Regions from separate parts of the Homo sapiens genome. Here region 1 is linked to region 2. The links come from fine-mapping of genetic effects on gene expression. A gene starts in region 2. The other region holds a variant in brackets. All regions are shown on one strand. Distances are between the middles of the regions.

What was found.
Region 1: its variant is fine-mapped to the expression of MYBPC1 in prefrontal cortex (CommonMind, PIP 0.95).

Annotation. Positions count from the first base shown.
Region 1 is chr12:101,645,064-101,647,994 of GRCh38, forward strand. It overlaps MYBPC1 (myosin binding protein C1), which reads left to right. Exons shown (of 32, transcript NM_002465.4): 13 at 1,700-1,824. It overlaps LOC105369937 (a long non-coding RNA gene), which reads right to left. Exons shown (of 2, transcript NR_188371.1): 2 at 1,657-1,965. Among named protein-coding and RNA genes, the nearest start is that of CHPT1, 51 kb to the right of the region's middle. The variant A/T (reference allele first, on the strand shown) is at 1,209.
Region 2 is chr12:101,593,259-101,596,189 of GRCh38, forward strand. It overlaps MYBPC1 (myosin binding protein C1), which reads left to right and starts at 1,713. Exons shown (of 32, transcript NM_002465.4): 1 at 1,713-1,837. The coding sequence starts at 1,813.

The DNA.
Region 1 (2,931 bases), 52 kb after region 2:
ATTTCAGAGTATTGCCAAATTTCTCCCAATTTTAAAAAATAAAATTGAAAAATAACTTGCAATCCATATTTGATATGCCACCTGGGAATCCCATCTTATAATTAGATGACTTTTGCTTTTCCAAAATAACGACTATATTTCATAATGGGTGAATACCTTCTATTTTCAATTCAGGTACTGTTTTGAGCACTTGCAATATTGCATATAAAAGGAACTCTTTAATGTTGAGATAAAACAAAATGTGGGTCAAAGCCTGTGTTTTATTATTTATTGGCCTTCTCACAGATGGAGACGGACTAAAGACAGACTAATCCCTGACGTCTGATGGTATCTCCAGTCTATTATAAAACTACTTTACAGAGATCCTCCTCAGCCTGAGAGATTTTCAACTCCAATATATTTTTTTAGGTTAACAGGAGCCATGTGTACATTTATAAAAGATGTTAATCCTGGAAAGCTGTTACTTGTGGAGTACAATTAGGTGGTTTCCAATTTCTTAATGTGGTCATGCCACTAGAGTGACTTTGTGATGATAACATTAATATCTGGTGTAAAAATCTCTTGAAGATGGCCTGAATTTACCAAAAACATAATTTTAATTGGTTATCTTTATGTAGAAAATATTTTTAAATATCTTGTTCTTGAAGGCTTCAATCTGAGAAATTCCCAAAACAGTGTTTTTAGTCTATTTTAATCCCATCATGTGCTCCTCCATAATACAGATCACAGATAATTATATTTTACAATCTTCTTGGCTTCTAGTTTTTCGTTTCTAAATACTCACATTCTTTCTTAGTACATGTAACTGTATGATAGCACCAGTTCTTGAGCTCATTTAAGAGAACATCACATTCTATAGAACTGCTGCGTGTGTTTGTGGTTATATCACATTATTTCTTAAATTGTATAATCATTTATTCACCCAAGGAAATCTACTATACCACTGGGATAGGTAATGAATAGATCTTATTCATACATCAATGGATAAGATCAAGTCTCTACCCACCTATAAAGTACATGAATTGGTTAGTTAAAGAATGTACAGAGTTAAAAATCTGACACCCTCAGCCAACTCTATCTTCCAACAGTGGGTTAAAAAAATTAAATAGCAAATATGTGAGTACTGATTTTTATTTGAAATAAAAACCTTATGTAAAAGAAAATTATAATGGAAATTAAATAGTATATATAAATATGCTTATACATTA[A/T]GTATTATAAAGATAAAAATTGGTTTTTTTTTTTGGTTTGACGTTAAACTGTGTAAGATATGATACCTAAAGAGCAGATCAAAATTATATCCCTGCTGGGCACGATGGCTCACGCCTGTAATCCCAACACTTTGGGAGGCTGAGGCAGGAACGCTTGAACCGAGGAGTCTGAGACAAACCTGGGCAAGATGGTGAGACTCAGTCTTACAAAAAATAAATTAGCTGGGCCTGATGCCCCACACCTGTGGTCCCGGCCACACGGGAGGCTGAGGCAGGAGGATCACTTGAGCCCAGGAGGTCGAGGCTCCAATTAGCTATGTTTGCACCACTGCACTCCTGCCTGTGCAACAGAGCAAGACCCTGTCTCAAAAAAAAACAACAGATCCTTGACTTTCAAACACTACCAAATTATAAGCCAAATTTGCTGGCAATAAAGAAAAGAATAAAATCACATTCACAGACTCTGTTTATTTTCATCCTATTCAAAACAGATACATCTTTGAACACAAAGGATGCCAGAGAATCCTGTTTATCAATAACTGTCAGATGACAGATGATTCAGAGTATTATGTGACAGCCGGTGATGAGAAATGTTCCACTGAGCTCTTCGTAAGAGGTAAAAATGAAATCTCTTATTGTGGTCACCAGGAGCTGTTGGCTTCTTCTCCCAGGGATAATGATCAAAGTGAAAGTAACTGAGGCTCCTCTACACTGGCAGCTATTATGGATCCTAATGAGTCTTCTGGTTTGTTGAAGACTAGAACAGCAGAGGGGAGAAAGAGAACCTGTTGAGTACAAATGCCTCATGTTTTGACTCAAGCCAAGCACTATCTTGCAAAAATAATTATTCTAGTTATAGCTTTGAAACCCAACAGATTTTACTGGATAATCCTTGTTTCACACACTCAATTGATCACAAATAGGTTTCTCTTGAAACCAGCTTCATTAATAAGTGGTTGGTACCAAGCACACTGAAAATTATCATTTACTAAGACATTGTGAAAAGAGCTGGAGGGTGTGAATACAGCCATGTCTTCCTTATTTTCTTTATGAGGGCTTCTGATGACAGACAACCCTGAGATCTCTGTCATCCATCTGGAACTAGGATCAAAGATTTGAGTTTTATATATTCTCCTTCATCAGAAATGTCTAGCATTTAGTATCTTCTTTGCTAAAAGAATAATATTTGATATATGTTTTGTTTGTTCTTGAGAACAATAATTGATTTGACTTGGAGAACTGTGAAAAAATTGGGAGAATTTACCCAGGGTTGCCTGCTATTTATTTTGCCAAGAACAGACATAGAAAACAAAACAAAACAAAACAAAACTCACAGACAGCCACAGTGGCTCATGTCTATAATACCAGCACTTTGGGAGGCCAAGGCACGTGATCACTTGAGATCAGGAGTTCAAGACCAGCCTGGCCAATGTGGTAAAATCTCGTCTCTACTGCAAATGCAAAAATTAGTTGGGTGTAGTGGCATGCACCTGTAATCCCAGCTACTCAGGAGGCTGAGGCAGGAGAATTGCTTGAACCTAGGGGGTGGAGGTTACATTAAGCCAAGATCACGCCACTACACCTCAGCCTGGACAGCAGAGTGAGACTCTGTCTCAAAACAAGAACAAAAACAAAAACCTCACTTACTGTTATCACCATGTCAACCATAGATGTTGCTTTCTCACTGTTGGTTTTTCATCTGTGAAGAAATCAGGGCTCATGG
Region 2 (2,931 bases):
AATTATCTTGAAAACACACACCAATAAAGGCATGTGTGTAGTTGTCTTTTCATATAAACTCAGGTTAGTCCTAGTGCATGTGAACAAAGAAAGTAAGGTGTCTTCTTCAGGTTGACTACTTGGTAGTTCCTATTTCTCTATCAGTTCCATGAGCGTTTTGGGAGAAAGTGACCACATCTACTACAGTCTTTCAACATCTTAAGTTAGATTTGTGTACCCTCCAATTGAATCACTTGAATCAAAACAATAGCTACTAGTCTATTTGACTTTCTTTGCCCAGGCCCCATATATATCTTTTTATTTTATTTTTATTTTTTGTAGAGACAGGGTCTTGGTTTGTTACCCAGGCTGGTCTCCAACTCCTGGCTTCAAGTGATCTTCCCACCTTGGCCTCCCAAAATGCTGGGATTATAGGCCCCAGCACTGCACCCAGCCTCCATATATATTTTTAAGTGTATAATCCAGTGGTTTTTAATATATTCACAAAGTTGTACAACCATCACCACTATCTAATGCCAGAACATTTTCATCATGACCAAAAGAAACCCCATATGCACTGGCAGTCACTCCCAATTCCACCTCCCTTAGGCCACTGGCAAACACTGATATACTTTCTCACCATATGGATTTGCCTGTCCTAGATATTTCATATAAGTGGAATTGTACAATGTGTGTTCTATTATTTTTTATTATTATTATTATTAATTTGAGATGGAGTTTCGCTCTTGTTGCATAGGCTGGAGTGCAATGGTACAATCTCGGCTCACCACAACCTCCGCCTCCTGGGTTCAAGTGATTCTCCTGTCTCAGCCTCCCGAGTAGCTGGGATTACAGGCATGCACCACCATGCCCAGCTAATTTTGTATTTTTAGTAGAGACGGGGTTTCTTTATGTTGTTCAGGCTGGTCTCGAACTCCTGACCTCAGGAGATCCACCCCCCTCAGCCTCCCAAAGTGCTGGGATTGCAGGCATGAGCCCAGCAGTGATCTATTATTTTATAGTCTACGTTTGTATGTCTGACTGACTTCTTTCACTTAGTGTAATGTTCTCAAGCTTCATCCACGTTGTAGCATGTGTCATTGCCTCATTCTTTTATATGTCCTATAATTTTGAAAAATGATGTTTTTGGAAAAAAATGCAAACGCAGAGTATCCCCTAATAGAAATCTTTGCTATTCTTAGAGAAGAACATGAGACAAGTTATTTAACCTAGAGATTTGGCTTGAAAAATTAATATTGACATATCAATGAGGAATAAGAAAAAATATAAATGCAATAATTAAGGACTGATGAAAATGAAAAGCTAATTGGAGCATAAAAGTGATCATCTGAATACAAAGACTTTTCTGCCTAATCTTAGTGAAAATTAAGGTATAGGTTGGATTGGCATATTATGATTTTTAATTTGTTTTTTTAATCATCCAGCAAACTTTTTGCACTCCTGAGTCAGCACATGCATCTGTCAGAGAGAGAAGAGCAAGACGGAGCACGAGGCTGCAGCTGAATTTAGAAAGTTAGAGGTGTTCTCATCAGCCACATGAGATGGGCAGGAGATTCCTTCCAGTAGGCGAGAGAGCAGAGTGCAGACAACAGATGTGAGAAAGGTCCCCATAGCTGTCAAGTTCCTGCATCCTTGTGCTGAAGAAAGGGAGGTGCCATCATGATTGATGTTCAGAGGCAGTATAAAAGCACTGGGTTTCTCCCCAACTGCTTGTCACACCGACCTGCACCATCTCTCGCCTGCCTGTGGGGTTTCTGTCAACTAGTCGTGGAGGGAAGGAGACTCTTTAAAGAATAACATCTTATTGTGGCCATGCCAGAACCCACTAAGAAAGAGGGTAAGACTTATCTAGAAATCTTTTTGTTGTACTCCTGAATAAAGTGTTTATTTTGGTATTTATCTTCAAACAAATAACAAATATCTTAACTAGATGAGAAAATAAAATCACTATGATTTAAGGAAACGATCTTTTAGATTAAACAGACCAGAGGAAAAATACAGCGAGAGTATATTGAATTGAAAAATTTCTGATAACGATAGTTTCTAAAGGGATATTGACTAAAATTATCAAATGATAATTCTATCATTCAATTGTAAAGAATCCTTAAAGTGTAATTTAAGGATGTTAATTGCTGATGGTAAACAGATTACGTTTTCAAGCATATTTTCTTAGATTTAATCACAAATTTTTTACCATGTATTTGCAATTTGCAGAGAGTAGGAGACTTAAAATATTTTCTCAAATGGTTAATACATTGGATCAAGATTTCAAAAAAGAATTTGTGACATTATTTCCATATTTGCTACTTTTTTTAATGGAAACATATTTAAAATATACAGACGAAGGGTTTTTTTTGTTCTTATCAGTGCCTTTGGAGGTTCGTTATTAAATTCTTGCATGGAAAGAAAACCAAACACCTGATAAAAAAGGATGTCCCTGAATATCATGAATAGATTGTTCTTTCATGAGTTTTATTGTAGAGAATTTCATAATATGTAGTAGGCTTTAAGAATAGTTAAGCTGAAAGTATAAAAATATTCTTCCTTAGAAGAAATGTTTTCCCTAACAAAGTTTCTCCTTTCTATAAAAAAATTAGTGTATTAAAGCTACCAATTGGTAACAGAAGTAAATTGGAATTAGTAGTTATGAAAATAAATAATAATAAGCACAAATTAATACTATGCATGCATTGAATTTAATTTTTAATTAAAATATCTTTTAAAAATATTATTTCATTTATATTCATCTTCATTAATGCTTACTGAATCTTTATTTTTCCCTTCTGCAAATAAAAGAAAAAGAAAGATTAGCAGGAAACATAAAAATAGTCATAGTTTTCAGTTTTTAATTCTTAAAAATGCTTTAGCTATTATTTTAAGGAACCTTGAAAAAGATGTTGAAATACTAACCAAATTATCAAAAGTCTTTTA